Linked DNA regions of Homo sapiens: all the other regions are linked to region 5. Evidence: fine-mapped expression QTL. A gene starts in region 5. Each other region holds a variant in brackets. All regions are shown on one strand. Distances are between the middles of the regions. Region 1 overlaps CD36 (CD36 molecule (CD36 blood group)). Region 2 overlaps CD36 (CD36 molecule (CD36 blood group)). Region 3 overlaps GNAT3 (G protein subunit alpha transducin 3). Region 4 overlaps GNAI1 (G protein subunit alpha i1). Region 5 holds the start of CD36 (CD36 molecule (CD36 blood group)).

The links. PIP is the estimated chance that this variant, and not a neighbour inherited with it, causes the effect.
Region 1: its variant is the best candidate, but not a certain one, in a credible set for the expression of CD36 in whole blood (TOPMed, PIP 0.52).
Region 2: its variant is the best candidate, but not a certain one, in a credible set for the expression of CD36 in whole blood (TOPMed, PIP 0.88).
Region 3: its variant is the best candidate, but not a certain one, in a credible set for the expression of CD36 in whole blood (TOPMed, PIP 0.67).
Region 4: its variant is the best candidate, but not a certain one, in a credible set for the expression of CD36 in monocytes after LPS (Quach 2016, PIP 0.88).

What each region holds. Positions count from the first base shown.
Region 1 is chr7:80,667,624-80,672,508 of GRCh38, forward strand. It overlaps CD36 (CD36 molecule (CD36 blood group)), which reads left to right. Exons shown (of 15, transcript NM_001001548.3): 9 at 2,330-2,399; 10 at 3,354-3,541; 11 at 4,299-4,417. Among named protein-coding and RNA genes, the nearest start is that of CD36, 31 kb to the left of the region's middle. The variant G/A (reference allele first, on the strand shown) is at 2,018.
Region 2 is chr7:80,674,366-80,679,250 of GRCh38, forward strand. It overlaps CD36 (CD36 molecule (CD36 blood group)), which reads left to right. Exons shown (of 15, transcript NM_001001548.3): 15 at 2,019-4,885. Among named protein-coding and RNA genes, the nearest start is that of CD36, 38 kb to the left of the region's middle. The variant C/G (reference allele first, on the strand shown) is at 2,669.
Region 3 is chr7:80,477,672-80,482,556 of GRCh38, forward strand. It overlaps GNAT3 (G protein subunit alpha transducin 3), which reads right to left. Exons shown (of 8, transcript NM_001102386.3): 4 at 1,170-1,327. Among named protein-coding and RNA genes, the nearest start is that of GNAT3, 32 kb to the right of the region's middle. RefSeq lists an enhancer at 1,102-1,396. The variant A/G (reference allele first, on the strand shown) is at 2,580.
Region 4 is chr7:80,138,839-80,143,723 of GRCh38, forward strand. All of the region lies in intron 1 of GNAI1 (G protein subunit alpha i1), which reads left to right. Among named protein-coding and RNA genes, the nearest start is that of GNAI1, 6.4 kb to the left of the region's middle. The variant A/G (reference allele first, on the strand shown) is at 1,896.
Region 5 is chr7:80,636,475-80,641,359 of GRCh38, forward strand. It overlaps CD36 (CD36 molecule (CD36 blood group)), which reads left to right and starts at 2,168. Exons shown (of 15, transcript NM_001001548.3): 1 at 2,168-2,272.

The sequences.
Region 1 (4,885 bases), 31 kb after region 5:
AGGTATGATTATTGACTTCGTATGCGTACTTGATTCTATCATTGCCTTGTAGGAAATGATAAACAAAAAAAGCAAACAAAAAAAACAGCAAAAACACTGTTGGATTTGCAGGGGTTTTCTTTTGTTTTTTTTTTTTTTTTTTTTTGAGACATAGTCTGGCTCTGTTGCCAGGCTGGAGTGCAGTGGTGCGATCTCGGCTCACTGCAACCTCTGCCTCCTGGGGTTCAAGTGATTCTCCTACCTCAATCTCATGAGTAGTTGGGACTACAGGCATGTGCCACCACACCCAGCTAATTTTTGTATTTTTAGTAGAGACGGTTTCACCATGTTGGCCAGGATGGTCTTGATCTCTTGACCTTGTGATCCGCCCCCCTCGGCCTCCCAAAGTGCTGGGATTACAGGCTTGAGCCACCACACCTGGCCAAGGCTTTGCAGGGTTTTGAGCCATAGGAGTGGGCAAATAAGCTATTTTCTAAGTAAAGCATTTCTGGAAATAAATTTTCAAGTCCTCAATACTACCAATGCTAGTAGTTGTATAAGCGGAATACTTAGTCCTTAGATGCAGAGATAAATATACTGTGTTAATCCTAGTAAAGGATTCTTTAAGGAGAAAAATCTTTAAAAAGAAGATTCATTGACAATAATAGAAATGCATGAGCATCAGGCATGATGTTAAAAATATCTATGGGGAAAATAGGGCTGATACAAACTAGGAAAAGAGGGAATTTGGACAGAGCAGGGGATGATCCCTGTGAGAGAGATTCTTGCTTATGGCACTAGCGAAAAGAAAGTAATAAAACAGTAAGGTTCTAATGTGTTTTCATCGTAATTTAGAAGTGCATCCTCTTTACCTTCTTCAGTAAGTTTGAAAAGACTTAAAATGAAAGTATTGGTATACATTTAGAATGTTTCTTTTGGGAGGACAGAAAAAAAGCTCTGCAAATATCAACTATGTTGCAGTCATTGTCCATGGTAGTTGCTGGGTATAATTAGGACATAATCTTCAATGATATTTTAGATAATGATCTTAAAAGCTTTTCAATGCATTTTTCTTTAATTATTAAGGAAATGGAAAAGCAGTTGTTGTCAATGTCCATATGGGGGCTTATATTTTACTTGTCACAAGAGTGTAAACTAATGAAAACAAGGTCACAAGGTTGACACACTTGCCAGAGAAAGAACCTACAATGCATAATCAAAGATGAGACTTACCATTTAAAACTCATTCAATGACGGCTCGTATTAGTGATATTCATGTGAGAAGTACATGGAGGAGTTAACTATTTCTTCATATATCCAATGTTTGCCATGGATCATAGCTGTAGCAAAAAGTAAATTCAATAAATGACTTTTTTATACACTTTCAAAGCATTTGAAGTTCTGTTTAGTGAGAGAACTTTAGTAAATATTTTTAGAAGTAGTAATCAGCCATTAGGACAAATGAGAAAAAAAATCACTACAAATAAATGTGGACATGGCAGGAGATCCAAATGAACTTCACTGGAAGAAAAGTGCCACTCTACTGGTGGGGTAGGGCATTTCAAAAAACAAACACAATGTTAGCCTTAACATTTCATGTTTAAGTTTCTTTTATTTTGTACCATTAAATATGTATAGTATGTAGATTTGTTGTTGACAATAGCAGCCGCCAGCCATATGTAACTGTTAAGGACTCAAAATCTGGCTAGTATGATTTGAAATGTGCTGTAAATATAAAATGCACAGTAGATTTTGAGACTTTAAGAATTTAAAATATTTTATAATGGTTACATGTTAAAATATTTTGGATATTAATAAGTTAAATATAGTTTTGTTTTGTTTGAGACAAAGTTTTCCACTTGTCGCCCAGGCTGGAGTGCAATGGCATGATCTTGGCTCACTGCAGTATCCGCCTCCTGGGTGCAAGCAATTATCCTGCCTCAGGATAGCTGGGATTACGAGCGCCTATCTCAGGATAGCTGAGGCAGGCCTATCCTGCCTCAGGATAGCTGCCTCCCAAGTAGCTGGGATTACAAGC[G/A]CCTACCACCACACCCAGCTAATTTTGTGTATTTTTAGTAGAGATGGGGTTTCACCATGTAGGCCAGGCTGGTCTCAAACCCCTGACCTCAGGTGATCCACCCGCCTTGGCCTTCCAAAGTGCTGGGCTTGCAGGCATGAGCCAGCATGCCTGGCCGGTTATTTCTTTTTACCTTTTAAAAATGTGGCTGCTAGATAAATTACTTAGGCAGTTTGCATTACATTTCTATGGACTACACTGGAGGAGAGATTTCTAGGTTTTTTTCTAGAACACACATTACATCTAATCATTTGCCACTCGATTTTTAAACAGATGCAGCCTCATTTCCACCTTTTGTTGAGAAAAGCCAGGTATTGCAGTTCTTTTCTTCTGATATTTGCAGGTAAGACAGATACTGAAGTATAAGTATGTCTGAGTCAGACCCCAGGTGACAAAATGCAGACCAAGAAACTTAAACACAGCATAGGAAATTCATCATGTTTATTAACTAACTCTTTGCAAAATGTTCTTCTGCATCTTCCAATTTTTAATAGTACAAATTTTTTTTTTTTTTGCCATTTCTATCTAAGCAAGAACCATTTTGCCTTTTAAAAACTAAACTAGTAGTCTATTAACGATCAAGTCCAGAAGGGCGTGCCCAATCTTTCTAAAGACATACAGAGAAGATGATGCAAATGTAACAGAACTGTGTTAATGTGCTCTGCTCAGATTTGTGGGGCCCAGTAGATAACACACAAGCACTGGAGCCTTTACCACTACCCTTGAGCCCAAGCTCTGTCCCTAAAGACTGTATGCTTGTGGGTAGGCATTTAACATCTCTGAATTTTTTTCTTATCTGTACAATTTAAGACAGCAGTATTTCTTCATATACGTGTATCTGGGGATAAGAAAAATATGTGTATTGAACCCTATGATAGACACTTGGTAAACGATGGAAATGTACCAGGTATATATCCAGCATGTATATGCATACACTCCAGTGAGTGGTCTTTCTTTCCAGGATTAATTAAGCCGTGAAAGAAACTATTTCATTTAAACTGATCACAAATAAAGTATTTGAAGGAAGTCCTATAAATATTTACTCTATTGGATAAATTGCCTGTGAGAAGTAACTTGAGTATAAATAAACATGGTACTTCACAAACAAGAATAGTTCATGCTTGGCTATTGAGTTTTAGTATGTGTTAAAATTTCCCAATCACTTTTTTTCTAAGAATGAAACAAGAATTTAAAAGAGTATATGATGTTTCTAAGTTAAAACAAGAATAAGAAAAAATGAATCTCCAGAATGTAAGTTCAGGTTCCTGGAATGCAGCTCTTTTTTCTCTGTATTTAGGTCAATCTATGCTGTATTTGAATCCGACGTTAATCTGAAAGGAATCCCTGTGTATAGATTTGTTCTTCCATCCAAGGCCTTTGCCTCTCCAGTTGAAAACCCAGACAACTATTGTTTCTGCACAGAAAAAATTATCTCAAAAAATTGTACATCATATGGTGTGCTAGACATCAGCAAATGCAAAGAAGGTGAGTAAATAACCTCAGTAGCACAGTCCATACCATAATTTGTGATATTCTTTAAGATGAGAACTTTACCATAATCCTTTAGCAACCAAAATTTAAAATATATCATAATTTGTGATATTCTTTAAAATGAGAACTTTACCATAATCCTTTAGCAACCAAAATTTAAAATTAAAGTAAGAAAGTAATTAGGGCAGAAGAAAGAATGGTGGCAGAAAATTTTAGTGCTGATTTTGTATTTTGGGAAGATCCCACTTGTGTTTCAGTATTACAAAATTTAGTTAAAACCACACCAGTATTTCCTTGTGGCTGCTTTTAGATTTAGGGTGAAATGAAAATAATTCCGAGAACACATTAAACATCCTGTTATTCATCTGTCCTAACTTTTTTCACTAGAAAATGGTACAGGTAAATGTATTTTCAGTATGTATCTAAAGCTAGAGTTAAACATAAAATTTGGAGACTAGCTTATCCTGTACATATTTATCATACTAACGTGGGTGTGGAAGAAGAAAGAAAAAACTAGTGTTAAATAAATTCTTAGTCCATAGACATATTACTGCCTGAAAGCTTTACATATTGAAAATTAATACTGAAGGAGTTTATAGTAGAAATCAACTGACATAATTCTTCCCCACCCATGTTAAAAACCATGTATTTTTTAATGCAAGAAGCTTTAGTTTTGTGGAAATATTTTTTGAGTTATATGTGAAATGAAGGAAGTTATTAATTCCAATTGACTCTTAAAACTTGTCTTCAGGGAGACCTGTGTACATTTCACTTCCTCATTTTCTGTATGCAAGTCCTGATGTTTCAGAACCTATTGATGGATTAAACCCAAATGAAGAAGAACATAGGACATACTTGGATATTGAACCTGTAAGAAAACACCTTATTGATCTGATTTGGTTGATATTTTTAAAAATACAATTGAAATAAAAATAATCTTGTCGATGATTATTTATTCAATAAATAATCATATTTATTGAATCACATTCTTGAAAGTTACTGAAACTTAGGTCGATTTCTTCCTATGGTTTATGAAGTGATTCTAATTGGCTTAAAATAATTTTATATAAATATTTATGTTTAGATGAGGAGTTATTGTATATTATGCAAAAGTCAAAGAGTATATGTGAGTTTGACTATACTTATTGTCAAAATCTATAAAATTGTTGTAGCGCAACAGTTTTAATCATCTTTATTTTTGTATTTTCCTTTTCAAAAAGTAAATGAAATTCTAGGATTTTAGTAGTTATGTTTTAGTTTAAACAATGACACATGGATTCTAACTGAATATATATTTGACCAGGAATTATCTGAGATCTTATATTTTGTTGCTGATTT
Region 2 (4,885 bases), 38 kb after region 5:
TGTGACCATTGTAACAATAGCACAAATAAAGCACTTGTGCCAAAGTTGTCCAAAATTGACTGGTTCATTTCTCAATTATATAGCTAGTTATATATTATCTGATACTTAAAAATAATTGACTAGGAAATGGTTTCATAAGACCAGGATTGCTGCATGTAGACATGCTGGCCGTGCATTTTCCAAATCCAGAAAAGTCCTGAACAAAAATTTGAATATAATAGTATCAGGAAATAGGGGAAAATAGTGTTCAACATAGTAGAACCAAGTACTCAGAGTGGTGTACAAGAGTTTAGGCCTCTATGCTTTAGATATTAGTGTCCATGCACTCTTAAAGATGAATGAATGCCTGACCTTTCCTAAAGGAAAACCTTTTTTTAGTTATCACAGGTAACATTGGTGTTGCCTGTGGGGGAGAATTTTTTACTTTCTCCCTATTTTTCTTCAGCCCACCTCAAGGCAATGTAAATAAAAGCAGTATGTGTGTTATAATAACTTATTTAGTTGTTTACTGTGTGCCAGTACCATGCTAAAGAAAGATTCTTTATCTCACATGATCCCTAATACAATTTCATGATTTTCCAATAGCCTGGATTCATCAGCATCCATTCTATCTTCTAGAGATGTTCCATGAAATCATACATTTTAATTGTTTGTGACCAAAGCATAAATCAGTGAAAGTGGAATTTGGGGACCAATAATTTCCTTTTGTGAGATGGAGAGCTTGTGTTTGAAAAGGCAACCTAATTTTTGGTTCTAATCACTTCTACCACTATTTAGTCACCAAAAAGACAATAATTCTGCATCCAAACTATTTGGACAGAATGGCTTCAAAATGCTAGCCTAAAATGTTCACATTATAAAAAGTTAAATATTACCTTCAATACCTGTCAGTAGCCTACTGACAAATTATGACTAAACAAAGGTATTTGTATGACTATGTAATAGATCATCCGCTGAAAAGTAAAACAAAATAACAAAAAAACTTGTCCTAATGGGAAAGCATGCTTAATAAAAGGAAATGCAGAAGTTATAAACATGTTTTGTAAGTAAGTATTCAGAATTAAAATTATGTGATACATTTTTATGATTGCTTAATGATCCTTGGATGTCAGATTCCTTGGGTCTATTTATAGCTAAATTATAATGAAAAATTCAAGGCTTGCTGGAGCAACTTTGTCAACAAATATATTAGTTTTGCTTATATATTTGATTTTTATGTGGAAAAATTACTACCCTTTTTTACAAGCAGAGAATAAACTGTTGATTACTTGATTTACTAGATTTAGAAGAATCACAAAAGATATGTAGATTTTCTTAAGCAAAATTCAGCTCTTAATATCATAAAAATTATATCTTTGGGCAGATTTGTAAACAATAGGAACAAGTAAGAAGACAGGTATGTAAGAAGTAGCAAAGTGTAAGACGGTGGAGCTTTAATGTGTGGTTTTACTCAGGGGGTCACAAGAAAATAACCCAATGGTCCTTTTGAAAGTAGTACATACACCTTTAAATGGAACTTGGTCTGAAGGGTGTGGAAATGCTGGTCCAGGGCAGATGCACTTCAGCTACCGTTCCTTGCCTGGTGTGTGCTTGTCTTGAAGCACCCTTCTTATGTGCCTTTCTGGAATGGGAATGTGTTTTGCCCTATTGGTGAAGTCCGTTAGAGAACTTCTCTCTGCAGCTAGAGAAACTGAACTGATTAATAAAAAGTATGATATCTAAGATATACTGCCACTCTACAGGTAGTAAATGATTCTTCACATTTGTGCGCCAGCTACATCATGACCCTTGGTAATACCGACCAACAGGATGAAAATTGGATATGCTTTACTTTTACAAAGCACACCTTATCTTTTAGTTGAAGAAATGGTGGCACTATTTCTTTTTTTGCACTAAGCAACTGCACATTTCAAAAGGATTATTGAGATGTTATGAAAATCTCTACCTTGCACAAAAAAAAACCCAGCAGCTTTTAAAATTCATCATTTCCACAACTGAATTGATTTCCGTTTCTACAGACCTGGCTCAAGCACAAACCAATTTGTGTTGTTCTGATTCAATAATTGGTTTCTGGGTGGCCAATTCAGAAGAAGAGTGTACATGCTCAACAAATCCTAGGCCCTGCATTCCTGTCATCCTCATCCGGGGGAAACACCATCATCCCAGTAGCTGCCCTATTCAACTGCAACAGTCTCCAGGACCATCAGTATACTGCATTTCATGTGCACCAAATATTTTGAAAGACATTTATAAATAATTGGCTTATGACTCATATTTCTCTATGAATACCTTCATACAGCAGGTATAACTCTTTTCTTTATGGGCTTAAATATTTTGTCACTGATCCTGCAAATGGACATCATTTTAGCACACTAGCGGTTTATATTTTAAGGACCTTCATTCTCTGTTCTGCACCTCTTCTGGAAATTGAGTAAATTTTGCTTTTTTTTTTTTACTCAGTTGCAACTTACGCTTGGCATCTTCAGAATGCTTTTCTAGCATTAAGAGATGTAAATGATAAAGGAATTATTGTATGAAATATTACAAAGCGTAGACTATGCATTGTTATTCATTATAATATTTTTTGCTGTCATAATCGCCTCATAAAGACAGGTTTCAACCATTAAAATATGTTCTTCCTTAAATTCCTGTGCTTTTTCTAGTTCCT[C/G]TTGTGTCATAAAATGTTTATCCTAATTTTCTCTCTGAAGTATATTTTATCTGAATCCACATTTCTTTATAAATCCATAGTCCTTGCTGAAATATGCTTTCTAAATTTCTACCACTTTGTTCTAGGCTAATTTTTTAAGCTAATTGGATGAAGAACAAAAAGACATTTGGTTTCATCCTTTACAGCAGTAGGACAATTGCAAAGGTTTTTCCTTTTTCATAAGGAGACACATTAATAGGTAACTCTGTTTCTTGAGCAGGGGTTCACTTATTCTGAGAGCATTAGTTCTCCTAAAAAGCTCCAGCATAGAAAGGGAAGATAAACCAAATTCTAGCTTGTGTTTTACCCACAGAAGGATACAGGACAAAGGAATAGTAACTGGCCTGTTTGGATACTAAAATCGAAAATAACTTTTAGCCTCCTCCTTATGATAGCCGCCAGAGTAAATGTTGAGCATTACTACAGAAAAGCCACAAACCAAGAATCTACCTGTTTGGAAAGATCTTTTGCATCTCTGAAGGTGCTTAAAGCATACTTAGTGCCTTTCCTTTTAACTGGGAAGATAAAAGAAGTATCTGTCCAAGATATTAATATGTAAGATAACATTGTAGACATGTTCTTCTGATAATACAAGGTTTATTCTATTTGCATTAGGATATTTGTGGACATGTCCATCTAATATAAAGGAAAGTTTTTTAATCATTGAGGCATGTAGGGCTGAGTTATATAATGTAGAAACTTCTAAAGATAATTGGATGAGAATATACATATTGACCTGTATATTATGACTAATCATGACTCAGATCTTAATACAGGGATGATCTCATAGCATTTAGATATCAGAAAAGGTTTTGACCTATATGTCTTTAATATTGTTTGAATACATGTATAATCTTTATCATTCCTCAGTGTTTCATTTCTCAAATTCTGTAAAAGGAATATAAGAGGAAAGACAATTCATATACAAAGACAACGAGATTAAAAATATGCAGTAGGAAAAATAATTACTTAAGGGGAGATTTTTTTTACATGAAATCTGGGCTTTGGATGTGTGTGTGTGTGTGTGTGTGTGTGTGTGTGCACATATGCACTGTGGTGGGAGTGGGGCAACTTGGGGAATATGTTACATGTGTGACTTTGTTTTGCCCTGGCGAAGTTAATGTTGTTCAGAAAGGGTAAATGTTTGGACACTTGCAATTGCTCATGGATGAATTTATATGTTTTAGTCATAGAAAAATTGTACCCTTTGATAGAAGCACATTTTCTTTCCAAAGCTGGTTATTAACCACAGAATTATAGCAGGTATTCATAACTTAAGTTTGAAAATCAATAGCGTCTGCAAATGGATTAACAGATTAGAGAATCAACAGCATCGGAAAATAGGTTAATGCATATTGCTTCTAACAAGTGCATGAAGAAATAGAAGAAGCTATGTAGCTTTCAGTTCTGACAGAAAAGGGTGAAGGAGGGTATCATTTCAAGAAAAAAAATAGCTATCACGCAATGGTTATCTCTGAAAATATTTGTATTAAGATGTGTATACATGGCCAGGCATGGTGGCTCATGCCTGTAATCCCAGCACTTTGGGAGGCAGGTGGATCACGAGGTCAGGAGATCAAGACCATCCTGGCCAACATGGTGAAACCTCATCTCTACTAAAAATACAAAAATGAGCGGGGTGTGGTGGCCCATGCCTGTAGTCCCAGCTGCTCGGGAGACTGAATCTCTTGAGCCTGGGAAGCAGAGGTTGCAGTGAACTGAGATCGCGTCACTGCACTCCAGCCTGGTGACAGAGCGAGATTCCATCTCAAAAAAAAAAAACAGTATGCACGTACAAATTTCTTAACCTGTTATCAATGTCTGAGCTACATAATTATCTTTCTAGTTGGAGTTTGTTTTAGGTGTGTACCAACTGACATTTCAGTTTTTCTGTTTGAAGTCCAATGTATTAGTGACTCTGTGGCTGCTCTCTTCACCTGCCCCTTGTGGCCTGTCTACAATTCTAAATGGATTTTGAACTCAATGTCGTCGCTTCTGGTTTCCTGCATATACCAATAGCATTACCTATGACTTTTTTTTTCCTGAGCTATTTTCACTGAGCTGAGCTAATGAACTAAAACTGAGTTATGTTTAATATTTGTATCAAATACATAAAAGGAATACTGCTTTTTCCTTTTGTGGCTCAAAGGTAGCTGCATTTTAAAATATTTGTGAAAA
Region 3 (4,885 bases), 160 kb before region 5:
CGATCTTTTTCATTTGTTTCACTTTTACATTACTGTTTTGCTTTTGTTTAATTAAACGATGCTAGCAGCTTCTGTTGGCGGGGAGAGGGGGAGTTCATCAAAAGAACTATATTTACACTTTTTCACACATATGCATGAACAGAAATAGAAAATGAGTAATTAGATTGTATTTACATATGCACACATCTTGCAGGCATATAGTAAGGGGCTATGTTAGGAACCACTTGCTAAAATAATTGTTTTTTGGGGTTAATTTGGTGACAGGGTCTTGCTCTTTTGCCCCAACTGGAGTACAGTGGTGCAGTCTCTGCCTACTGCAGCCTTGACCTCCTGCGCTCAAGCAATCCTTCTGTCTCAGCTTCCCAAGTAGCTGGGACTACAGGCACATGCCACCACACCTGGCTAATTTTGTATTTTTTTGTAGCAACTTGGCTTTGCCATGTAACCCAGGCTGGTCTCAAATTCCTTACTTCAAGCTGTCTGCCTGCCATGGCCTCCCAAAGTGCTGGGATTACAGGCGTGAGCCACTGTGCCCAGCACTAAAGGAAAATTTTAAATCACTTTGATAATGAAATTATAAATAGTGTCACAAGCCCCTAATTTCCTTATGGTTAATTAATGCTAAATGGATGATACAAGCAGTGAAATTTATAGAATTTTTTGAGACTCCAAAAGAATCTCCTAGTATACAAGTATTTTGGAAATCATTTCATTAATTTCTTCTAGAATTTTGTATCATGGTCATCAACCCAATGAGCCAAGGCATGTGTCATTAATGAAATTAATCTAGGAGATGATTTCACTAATATGGATAGAGATGAAATGAATAGCCCAAAACCTCAGTGTGCATGTCACCAGTCTGTGTTAGTGTGAAAGGCTATGCATAAAGGTTAACACTTTTTAATCAAGAGAAGATATTTGCACCATAGAATCTTCTCAGGCAGTTTCAAACTTAGTTATTTAAAATGCTCCCCTGGTTATATTTTCTTAAATCTCATTATGTCACCTTGTTCATTTTCATTTCTCTTTAATTGCTTTTTATTTTACTCTAATAAAATGTAACACCATTTATTTTCCTCATTTGAATTTACAAATGCAAAGTATGCAGAATTATAATTCTTAATTTTAAATGTTTTACCTCCAATTCCCCTTAAAGTGAATTCACTTACTAAGCTGCTGAGTCATTGAGCTGATATTCAGATGCCCTTTCAAAGCAGGCCTGAATTCCTGGATCTCTCCACAGCCGTTTTATTACCTCAGCCAGTTGAGGTGTCATGCCACCATCTTCCAGGGTATTTGCCATTGCATAAAGTTGTCGTTGGTCCTCCTAGAACAATATTTTGGTGAGAATAAGTATGTATTATTTGGAATCACATATTCTATTTTCTAATAGAGTAATTTACTGGGATAATTTTAATCTTATTCTTTTAGCTAATAATTCCACCAAACATCTTTTTGAACTATATTGAGGTAAATAGAACTAAAGTTTTTCATGGCTGGATGATGCCCAGAAGAGTTCTCCTTTGCAAAAACTATAAAATATTATGTGAAGAAATTAGCATATTTTGAAATATGTCACTGACTTCTGAATATGATATCAAGGAGGATAATAATACTTTGCTGTAGTCATACTAAGTTTGCAAAAGGTCTACATATTATACCAAGGTAAAATAAAAATTAAGCTGATTTAATCTGGTATCTTCTTCTTTTTTTAATCATCGCCATGAATTTTTCTAGAAAAAAAAAGCCAAGTAAAAATTAGAGTAGACCGGGCATGGTGGCTAACGCCTATAATCCCAGCACTTAGGGAGGCCGAGGTGGGTAGATCACTTGAGCCCAGGAGTCTGAGACCAGCCTGGGCAACATGGCAAAATTTTTCTCTACAAAAAAATTAGTCAGGGATGTAGTACATGTCTGTAGTCCCAGCTACTTGGGAGGCTGAGGTGGGAGAATTGCTTGAGCTTGGGAGGCAGAGGTTGCAGTGGGCAGAGATTGCACCACTACATTTCAGCCTAGGTGACAGAGCCAGACCCTGTCTCAAAAAAAAAAAAAAAAAAAAATTAGAGTAAAAATGGAAATAAATTCATTATTCTAAAATTGTATTGTTTCAAAAAATTAATATATAATGTTTTTTTGTCATCGGGTTACTGCCTCGTAATCATATAAAGAATGGTAAACATTTGGATCCACATAATATTTTTGAACATCCCTGTAGGCATTGTTGATTGCATATGCCTTTGGAACAAATCAGTAGGACAGAGGTGAGAGTTTTTTATGCAAAGCAAGGAATTATTGTCTTAGTCCTGTTGGGATAACATTTGGAGGTTACCAGCAAAGAAGGAAATAGAAGTTTACTGAGTAAATACTATAGTCTGCAATTTATTTAAACAAATAATCAAAATAGCTTTATGACAAATCATTTTTTAAAAAATTAAGATGTTGAGTTTCAGAATAACTAAATTGACTGTGGTAATAGCCCAGGCAAATGGAGAAGTCTGAACTCAACCTTGTTGTCAGCCTCTAAAACTGATATCTTTTTTAGCTCATAACCCTCCTAGTGCATATTATTACAATTTACA[A/G]AACTGCACATGCAATATCACACATAATCCTCACAACCATGAGATAGACACTATATTTTCTCCATTTTACATGTGAGGAATCTAAAACTCAGAGTTTTAGAAACGAGTAAACCAGTAAATACAATAAGTATCAGAATAAGAGTCAAATACAAGCGCATTTTGTGCCATGTCAGGCTGTTACTGTTACAGGAAAGGGGTCCCAATCCAGATCCCAAGAGAGGGTTCTTGGATCTCACACAAGAAAGAATTCAGGACGAGTCCATAGGGCAAAATGAAAGCAAGTTTATTCAGAAAGTGAAGGAATAAAAGAATGGCTACTCCATATACAGAGCAGCCCCGAGGGCTGCTGGTTGTTCATTTTTGTGGTTTCTTGATGATATGCTAAACAAGGGGTGGATTATTCATGCCTCCCCTTGTTAGAGCATATAGGGTAACTTCCTGACATTGCCATGGCATTTGTAAACTGTCATGGTGCTGGTGGGAGTATAGCGGTGAGGACAAGCAGAGGTCACTCTCATGGCCATCTTGGTTTGGGTGGGTTTGGGCCAGCTTCTTACTGCAGCCTGTTTATCAGCAAGGTCGTTATGACCTGCATCTTGTGCCGACCTCCTTATCTCACCCTGTAACTTAGAATGCCTTAACTGTCTGGGAATGAAGCCTAGTGGGTCTCATTCTCATTTTCCTCAGCTCCTATTTAAGATGAAGTTGCTCTGGTTCAAATGCCTCTGACACTACCAGTGAAGTATGTTCAATAAGAACTTGCTGCTTTTCTGATACAACTCAGCTTATTATTATTTTGAATTGACTACAGTTTTTTTCTACCATTTTATCAAAAATCTGTTCTTTGTATAAAAAATAAGGATATGTCACTTATTGTTAAAGAGACACTGGTAAGGGTAAAAAAAGAAAATAACTTATTCTATCTTTCTTCACAATCAGCTTTTATTGTTAAAAGTAAACTGATCAGATGGTCATTGGTCCACATATTCAATGTGTAAACCAAAAACAAAATTCTAAGTCCCCCAAGCAACAGAATTCTAAGCCCCGCAACCAACAGAAATCCCTCTTGGCCAACAGAATTCCAAAGTAAACCTGAAAAACTAGGTCAGGCTGTGATAGGAAGGGTGGGGTCAGACATGCCTCATTAGGCCCTCCTCCCTTTGGAATTCAGGCATAACTCACCCGCATTAACATTGAAACAGAGATCTTAGGACTGATAAAACAGAATCTTTATAGCAATAAGATTCCAAATTCCAAACTGACTCCAGTATAGAGCAGGCCCTGAAAGAAATTATTTTACCCCCAAATATATTTTTTTGGCATATATAAAAGAATAAAAGAAAATAACAAGAAAATAAAAGCTGTCTTTTGTGGGGGAAGTTTACATTGTGTAGAGAAGCCCCTTCCCTTTTCAAGGCCTTTTCTGATCCTGGTGAGATTAGCTGAAAGTCTAGCACTTTTTAAAGGTCTACATAGGAAATATTTGCCATCTATTGCCTCTAAGGGTGCCACCTATGAGGCTTCATCTACATAATAAGAACCTTGGTCTCCACAGACTCTTAACCTAGAGACTCCTTTCTACTGATTCTAGGCCTTTAGACAATAACTTAATTCTTTCAACCAATCAGAAAATAACTTAATTCTTTTCAACCAATCAGAAAATGTTTGAATCCACCTATGACTGGAAGGTCCCGCTTCAAATTGTCCTGCCTTTCTGGACCTTGCATGTATTGACTGATATCTGCCTGTAACTTTAATCCCCATAGAATGTATAAAATCAGGCAATAACTTAACTACCTTGGGCATATGTTCTCAGGACCTCCTGAGGCTGTGCCATGGGTCATGGCCCTCACATTTGGCTCAAAATAAATCTCTTCAAGTATTTTACGGAGTTTGGCTTTTTTGTCAACAAATGGCCATATCAAGTCTCAACCTGATTTTCCTGCATCAACACAGGATAGATTTTTAAAACCCCATTTCTCTGTTAAATGGATATGAAAGAGAACTGCAAGTTCAGTGAAATATGCTCTGGTCACTTTCACTAGCATCATGCTATTGGCTCCTTCCACTATTAAAGTGCTGTTTAGGAGGAATGATGCCATAAAACAACCACTACACAGTTTTATCCCTAAGGAGAAAAAATTATATATCTTGTCAGCATAGCTTTACAAACCAAACAAATATACTGTTTCATTTCTTTCTGTTTTTCTTTCTTATTTTCTTTTTCTTTTTTCTTTCTTTTTCTTTTTTGTTTTTTTGTTTGTTTGTTTGTTTGTTTTTTGAGACGGAGTCTTGCTCTGTCATGC
Region 4 (4,885 bases), 500 kb before region 5:
ATATTCCAGGTTTGGGGGAAAATGAGCTGAGGGATTGGATTTCTTCTGTTTGGTGGATATTTTTCTATTGCTGCCACCAGGCAGCCCTTTGGGATGCTGCATCATTAATCTTCACTCCTTTTGAACTTGCCCTGTGACTTCCCCTAGTTGAGAAATGTTGGCTATGCAGGGCTTTTGATTTTTCATTGCTTTGACTTTCTTAGAATTGGTTTAGGATCTTAGATGTCAAAAAGCCCATTTCCTTGAATAAACGGATCCGGTATTTCAGTATGGGTTGTGTGCTTCTTTCTCATGGCATACCTTGTATTAGTTACTTTAGTAAGAAGCCACAGGTTTTGGAATTGCTGATTTTTTTCTGTACCTTCTGTTTTTCATTTTCATATTCATAGTTCAAGTCCTTCTCTGCCTCTGGCAGCCTAATTCCAATAGGCTCTCTTGCATCTTGTCTTTCCCTCTAGCCTGTTCTTTCTACTGCAGATATCATGCTGCTTCCTTGCTCAGAAACCTTTGTTGACTTTTCCGTTTCCTGCAGAATAAAATCTTTTAGACTTGGCTTCCCTCTAGCCTTATACTTTTTCCTTAGGGCACCCTTCTCCAAACAGAAACTGTTGGCACATGTTAAAGCATATTTGCACTTGATTTCTGGTATTGTTTATCCTTCTGCCCAGCCTATTTTCCTACTGCTGTGGGCACTTTAAAGGCAGAATTTTTGTAGGTTTTCTTTGAATACCTAACAACCCTTCTATTTTATTATGTGTAAAATGGCTTCTTAATTATGTAAAATTATTATCTTGCTGGAATATAAACTTTGTGCTCTGCTGTTTTCAATATCAATGAGAGCAAATAACTGTCCAGCCAAATTATGTAAACAAAAAAGGAATAGTAAATTATGTGATGACCACAGTGAACACATGGCATCTAAAATCAAATTGTTTGGTTTAAGATTTTTTTTCATATTTATAAGAGCTTTTCACAGTCATTGTATTTGATAAATTAAAGTTGAGAAAATGATAATGGATATTCATTGGAGGAGGATCTGCTATGTTGCAATTATGGCACTTTGCCCTGCAATTTTTTTTTTTTTTTTTTTTTTGTAAAGGTAGATCTCATTTTCTAATTTTTATTTTTGGCCCCAATTTCTTTTTTTTTTTTTTTCCTTTTTTTTGACGGAGTCTTGCTCTGTCGCCCAGGCTGGAGTGCAGTGGCGCAGTCTCCGCTCACTGCAAGCTCCGCCTCCCGGGTTCACGCCATTCTCCTGCCTCAGCCTCTCAAGTAGCTGGGACTACAGGTGCCTGCCACCACGCCCGGCTAATTTTTTTGTATTTGTAGTAGAGACGGGGTTTCACCGTGTTAGCCCGAGTGGTGTCGATCTCCTGACCTCGTGATCCGCCTGCCGCGGCCTCCCAAAGTGCTGGGATTACAGGGGTGAGCCACCGCACCCTTTGGCCCCAATTTCTAATGCATAAAAAGTATGACTGTTGTTGAATGTCTCAGTGATAGGAAACATGCCTATCTTACAGAATTTAATAGATGTTATTTAAACCTGAAAAAGACTGCTGTAATTTTTTAAACAGAAATTGTGTATTCAACCACAATCAATTTTTATTTTGTTACACATGTCTAACTGCCTTGGAAAATTCTGTGTACAACAAATTCACACAGGAAGACCTGAGTGTATTTGAGTGTGTTTGTTGCAGATTTCTTGGTCACATGTTCTGGCATGCAGTTAACCAATGTATGACTCCCCAGAGTATGACACAGTGAAGTTCAGATCCCAGACTCCATTTGAGTCTTACGAACTAAGGTCAGCTCTACCTAATCTTTTAGTGCTCAGACTGGTTTCTGTCATAACTTGTTAGTGCCAATTAAAAGCCGTAACGGAAATAGGGCAAAAA[A/G]TTTTTTTTAATGAATGTTCATTACCATAAACGTAGTGACAACACAAAATTTATTGTCATACAGTTGTGGAGGTTAGAAGTCCAAAAAGGGTTTCCACTGGGCTAAAGTCAGGTTGTTGATAGGGCTTCTTTTCTTCTGGAGATTCTAGAGGAGAATCCATTCCCTTGCCTTTTTCAGCTCTACAGAGGCTGCCTGCTTTCATTGGCTCATGGTGCCTTCTCCATCTCAAAGCCAGCAATAGCTGGTGGAGTCTTTCTCATGTGGCATCACTCTCCTGCCTCCCTTTTTCACTTGGAAGGACCCTTGTAATTACATTGGGCCCACCCACATAATCCAAGTTAATAGTCCCATCTCAAGATCACATCTGCAAAATTCCTTTTGCCCTGTGAGGTGACATATTCACAGGTTTCAGGGATTGGGACATATTTATCTTTGGGGACCATTATTTTGCCTTCCACAGTCCGCCCTCTGGCTCCCAAAGGCTCATGTGCATCCTGCATGCAAAATGCATTCACCCTCTCCCAACATCTCCAAAAGTCTCAACCCAATACAGCCACAACTGACTGCAAAATCTCAACCAGGGCTCTTGATCTAACTCAGGAATAGGTGAGATTCTGGGTGTAATCCATACTGGGACAAAATTCCTGTCTGTTTGTGGACCTGTGAAACTAGCAAACAAGTTATCTGCTCCCAGAATATGGTGGGTCAGGCATAGGTTATCATTAAATGGAAAGAAAAAAGGAGTCTCTAGTTTTGAGCACTTTCAAAACTCCTTTAGGTTTCAAGGACTGGGGATAGTTCTCTGTGACTCTTTACTCCACCCTGTGGGTACTGAACTTCTCCACTCTTGGGAGTCATCCTTCTTTTCTAATGAAGGGTGTAGCACCTGTATGCTGCTGATTACTTTTATCAGCCTGTTTCTTGCCTCTGGAATTATGGTGGTCTGACAGCATTATTTCATTTCATATTCTTTTACTTCACCTTTTTCCTGTCCCGTTTTACTGTAACCAGCAAGAAAAAACAAAAACAAAGAACCGGCCACATCTTTAATACTTTGCTTGGAAATCTCTTCATCTTAATGTCCAGGTTCATAGCTTACAAGGTCTGCTTTCCACGTAACTGCTGGACTTAATTCAGCTAAGCTTTCTGCCTGTATATAGCAAGGATCCCCTTCCTCTAGTTTTTGATAACATGTTTCACCTTTCTTCCCATCCAAGTCCTCATCAGCAGCAAATTTAAGCTCCATGCGTCTAGCAATAGTATGTTCATGATAATTCACATATTTTCTAAGGTGATAATGTGTCATCTACCATGCTTCTCACTTCGTTCTGAGCCCACACTGGGAGAGACATTAACATCGTATTTCTATTAACAGTATGTCAAGACCACCTAGACTTTTTCTATTATGCTTCTCAAAATTCTTTTAGCCTCTGCCCATTGCCCATTTCTGCATTTTTAGGTGTTTGTTATAGCAGCACCCCATTTCCCATTATCTTCATCAGTATCTTATATATCACTTTTGAAAGTGCAAAATAATTGTAATTTTACATTCTCCAGTCCCTCATAATTTATGTGACTATCATGGTAACACTAAAAGCACCAGTTTCTTACATGTCATATTGAACCCATGGTGTTACTCAAGTCGTAATGTGAAAGAATAAAGCTTTTCTTTGCCTCTTCTTTATTGACATTTTTCCTGATCATCCAGTCTAAATTAGTCTTCCTTCGTCTCCCTTCCTACTAATACCATATTGAAATCATCTTGTACTTTTATTTTTTATTGTCTGTTGCCTTTCTCTATGGCATTGGCCCCATCAGAGCATGAATCTTGTCAGACTTATCATCTGATGGGATGGCACATAGTAGCTGTTTCATAATTGTTGGTTAAATTAATGGATAAATTGTTGAACATTAATTTTGACTAGTTTTCTTTTAAAGGGAAAAATTGGTACATATTCTTTGTGCCTTGGGTATTTTGAGTGAATTTTAGCCCAATATATATCTTGCTGGTTTAGAGTAATGAAAACCTACTACATTATTCCTAACACATTTCTAAAAAGTAAACTAATTTTGGGGACCATATTCTTGTTGCATGATCAAAATCATGATTCTTGGTAAATAAGTGGTAGAGTGAAATGTGATTTTCATATTTGAATATTCTGGGAACTTTGTTTTTAACAGTATTGCTGCCTTGCTGTTTCACATGTTATTTTGCTGCTTTCTTAAAATGCATACACTATTGCAATGTGGCATTTAATATATACTCACAACTATATATTTCACACAGGATGATGTGACTCTGGTAAACCTCAGCTTTCAGGAGCCAGCAGGCTGCTCAGAGGCTCACCAGCAGACTGTTCTTTATGTCTTGCTTGTTCCTATGTGGTGAGGATGATCACTAGTAGCATTTGTAAGATGTGTTCCATGCTTTTCCTGTCAAATTACGCATTAGCCTTACCAGATCCTTAAGAGAATTTACAGTCTACTTGGGGAAATACAATATATACATAAAGATAAGTCCTCATAATGTCAAATGGGGAAGAAAAAATAAAATAGATACTAGGTAGGGGAGGTGAGTGTCAATATTGGGACTTCATTGTTGATCTTGGGGGGTGGAGGTGGAGGTAGCTTGCCTCTCAGATATTACTTTGGTTATAAATCTGTCAGTTGTTTTCATGTATTTCTGAACCTACTATTTAACCCTTACTGGGTGTAAGCTTTGTGTTGTATGGAAACTTATAATGTAGAAGAGACTTTGCTATCTATGAATTTAGTTTTCTAACATTTTCCATGTCTAAGGAATTTTTTTCCCCTCCAAGGTTTATTTAGCTCTGTAGAAAGGCTTTCCAGAGAGGAAAGGTGAGTTGACTTAGAACTCTGGTGGTAAAAGTTTTCCCATGAGACCTTGGGCAAGTTACCAAATTTTATAAGCTTCAGTTTTTTCTTCTATAAATGCTGGATAATAAATATATCTACTTCATAGGGCTAG
Region 5 (4,885 bases):
GTAGCCTGAGGATTTAAACTTACATCCTTCCAATTTCTAACCCTATGTGATCTCTTGCAAAAAAAAAAAAAAAAGAATTTCCAAAGAATTGTCTAAACTGACTGAAGTAGATTGAAAATTATATCCTGTCATTCTAATAAATTAATCCAGTGTTATAGTGGATTTACATAAAGCAAGGTATATGCTCACATAAAACACATCCCTTCAAAATATGGTGGGTGCATAGTCTTTAAAAAAATGAAAACCCCAACACTCTTTACTTTAAAATGGGTACAGCATTTTGCTATGTTATTGTTTAAGGTCTATATTTTTCTAAAAATCCACAGTTGCAGATTTGACTCAGCTGTGTGCTTTCAGATCTTGTATGCTAAGCTACTCAGGAACTGTTGTCTATGGGATTGAACACTTAACAGCTGTCTCTGGGAATGTAAATTTGATTCTTTGGACTGCTCATGGGACTCTGTGACATTTTCCTCTCCAGTGACAGCAGATTTGAATGGCATTAGGCTACTGATTAAATAATACCCAAGTAAGTTTAATGTCAACTTAGGCATCTATTTTGCATGTATTTTTTCTGAAATAATCTTTCTCTAATTGCGATCATATTTTCATTATACTTTAGTCTTTTAATATCTTTAAAATATGCTCTTTTAAACAGGTCTTATCTGAACCCTTTCGTTGGTAATCTTTTTCTGAATTGTCATATTAGAGTGTGAGTGTGTGAGAATTAAGGTTGAGAAATAAATTAGCTTAAATACAAAACAGCTATCTACAAAATAGATATTCTTAACCAAAATAATATGTCTTTATACTACCATTTTATATCGTGCCACCAAGATAAAAGGTCGCAGTTATTTAAGGGAATTACCTTCTTAAGTTTCATGAAATCACTGTGAGTTATTCTTTTCTAACTGAAAGCATAAATTATAAAGAGATTGCACATGGTCATTTCTACTTTATCCTAATTAAGTGGTCTGAGATTTGAAAAAAAAGTAATAGACTTACAATATTTTTATGACTTATTTTTTAAATAAATATGTCAGTAAAAACTTCCCTGGGGAAAAAAAATTCTTGAGGAGAAAAGAGTGTTTGGGGTTTTTTTTTTCAGTTGTATGGCACTGCTTGCAAATGAAAGGATTCGTTGTGTGCCTCACATGCCCAAAAAGGACAGCACGAGCATTCTAACTTAAGGACTGGTTTAAATATGACCTAATGAACTAAATATATTTCTGTCTGGTATTCTTAGGTTACTTTACTTCTAAGGTTGTTTGAATGCATTTATCCAGCTCTCCTATCAAATACATGCCAGGTTAACCCTGTGAAGGTTTTCCTGTATGATTCTGAGAATTTCTTTATAAGAACAGGGTCTTGATAGTGAAGGTTCTTTCCCCAAAGTGCAAGGCCTTCTATTTTGATTCAATATCAACATAATGCTTTTTTTTTTTTTGAAAGTGACTTAAGTACTAAAGATTATCCTCAATAGTAATTCTACTTAGACATATTTTGGTTGAAGAAATTTAAAGAGTTTATTTTTTGTAGGAGCACTGTGCTGTGATCATGAAATTTTTGCAAAACTAACAGAAAATGATAAACAGTTAAGAACTTCCAGCTAGAACAATAGGCTGTTTCCTTTTTTTAAGTCAGTTTGTCATCCTTGCTGATTGACAGTCTCCAATTGTTTTCAGAATTATTAGTCTCACAGTATTTCAGAATTACGCTGTATAAAAAAGTACATTAAATTTAAACTTAATAAAATAAGTTTCGCAAGCTCAGTCAAGACAGGGAAGTGAGAATATGATTATTCTTCCAAATTTACTATTTCCACCAGCGGTCTCAGTTCAGCATCTGAGAATATGTTAGGGGAAACTCAGCAAGTCAGTTCCTTTTGTTTTTCTGGCCTCTGACTTACTTGGATGGGAAATAGCCAAAAAAAAAAAAAATGCTGAATATCTCAGATATAGGTAATGGGTCTTCACCAGAACATAAAAATAGACCCTTATTAGCCATATCAGTAATGTGCTGTGTGGGGGATTTTTTTTTTCTTTCAATTCCTCTGGCAACAAACCACACACTGGGATCTGACACTGTAGAGTGCTTTCTCTTCTCTTTTTTTGGGGGGGGGAGGGGGTGTGGTTGCATATTTAAACTCTCACGCATTTATGTACTGAGGACTGCAGTGTAGGACTTTCCTGCAGAATACCATTTGATCCTATTAAGAATTGTCCAAATGTTGGAGCATTTGATTGAAAAATCCTTCTTAGCCATTTTAAAGGTAAGTTGTATGATTTTTCTTTAAATAAAAAAGATTAAGGGATTTTTCCCATCACCCAGATGACGGGAGGTGACACTACTGTATAAATACTCCTAAGAAGTTATATAGGAGGACAGGAAAAAAGGTAGTAACTGTTTTCTTAGTCACTAGGCTTTATCTAAAAATCAGGTTTGCATTATTTTCAAGTTATCAACCTTCCTATATTTTATGCTTAAACCATACCCAATGGCATTTCATGTCGTATGTATAAGTTAATATTTAAAGTGATTTATAATCCAATTTGGATTATTATAAAACTTTCATTTTATACTTAGGCTATTTATACATGATGTTTAAATGATGAAGATCATTATACTGCAGACCAATATAATGAGGTTAGATGTTATAAATGACTTACAGCTCTTATGTCAACATGTTGTCTAATATGCAATTATTAACTATTACTTTACAGAGTCATTAGCTTGTTTAATTTTCAATCTGAATTGCACAACTTTTGGTATACCTGACTTGCTCTACATGATCAAATGCAATGTGTATTTTGGATATGTGCTTTTTAAGTTCTTTTCTGTAATGAACAAAGATATTGTCATTGTTACTGGGAATAGCAAAGTATATTACTTTTAAATAATCTGAAATTTAATTAGTGTAAATTAGTAGAATAAAAATAAAGTTAATTTTTTTTCGATTCAGGAAGCTTATTACAAATAGTACTGAATTATTAGATGATGATGCCAAGTTGAAGTAAAGGAGAAATCAATTTGGAGGAATTAAGTAAAAGCCTCAAATTAATTATACATTAACTAAAATTATAAATAACTGTAAATGGCATAAATTCTCTAGAGTACATCCCAGTTTCTGAAATCATCAAGTAGCATATTGAAACCTGTTTTGTAAAGATTTGCATGTACTTTTTAGTCTTTTTCTGTGTGGTTTGAAGTCAGTAATGTGTGTTGAAGCTAAAAAATATTGCTTTAAATATTGGTTCACAAGGAAGCCAAAATGAAATATTTAAAAATGTTTGTTATATAGAAAGTCCAGTGGTCCTTTGGAATTTACAAGAAAATAAGAACTAAAGTAGAAATCATTTAATTTCCCAGACTCATTAGTGAACCAGAACAATAAACCAAACAGAGAACCATCAGATAATGGGTTAGCCTGGGAAGAATATTAATTACAACTGGAGGTACTTGCACAGAGTGTACTGAATTTGGAATTTACCTTGGAAGTTATAGTTGCCACCCTATTTTTTTAAGGAATTTTTTTAACCTTGTTTACTTTAACACATTTGAACCCTGCATGTGTGTGTATTTCCTGTGTGTTTCCTGAAAAGGAAAGTTTAAGATAATTCTGTAACTATCAGATACTTAATTCTGTAAGTATCCTTGCATCTAATCAGAAGATGTTTTTGTTCACTGGCCCAAGATGTGTCTGAAACTTGCAAGTAGCATTGTTCTAAACTAGTAGCTGTCTTTCCATTTGCATATTTTAATTCCATACATATATGATCACATTTCATTATAATCTAACTATTTTGCAAATACTCATTTCTACTTTTGTAAAATATACACATTTATTAGATTTTTAAAACACTTGGCCAATATGAAATAACACTTTACTGTTATGGTTTGAAATGATACTTCATAGTAATATTTCAAAATAACAATAACATTTTCTACAATATAAATATATATTATTTTACTTCATTTAATACTTGCAACCTTATTTGATGTAAGTAAACTCATTTTAGAGAAAACTGTATCACAGACAAACTTCAATACTAACACCCAGAACTGAATCTACATTTCTTGGCTTCAAGGTCCAGCATTTTTGGCATTACAAACTTTATAGTGTCTGTTTATAGTAGAATTTGGGGTGTGGAAAAAAGACATTAGCATTCTTGTCTAAGGTTCAAAAATTAAGAATGGGTCTAGATAATACTCTTTAAGTCAGTATGAACTTAAGGGAATAATTTCAAACCTACAGTAATCCCTGGTTCATAAGTCTTTAAAAGACGGGACTTGTTTCTAGAAGGATCCCAAGTATAATATATAAAGTCCAATGTATTTATTGCATTAGTTTTTAAAGACTACCATCAAAACAAGTTACAAATTGCAATATTTGAGAAGTATGTAATTATTTTATATTACAGATGTCTATCAAGTTTTTTCCTATTTTACATTTTTACCATCATATATTCTGATAGGATAGAAATGGACATGAGATAATTTCAGTAAGATAAGATTCTGGAGATCTCATAGTCCAGTTATTTGAAAATTACTTGTGGAGCCCATGGGTTCTTTGGAGATGACTCAGAGCCCAAGTGAAGCGTGACTGGGAAAGGGAAGAGGCACAGTTTCTGCTCCTTTCTTTTACCAAATAACTCTTCTTTGAACTATCTTTTATATTGGTATTGTGCATAAAATTTACCTTGAAAGGAGAATTCTATCTCTAAACATGATTTTATAAAGAATGACCTAATGACCTTATGTTGATGAAACATAATCATAGTTAAATGATTGTTTTACACCCATTTCTACTACCTTGAATTTGAATCTACATTTTTACTCATGTATAGGGAACTGTGTCTTTATAAACATACATAGTTATGATAAT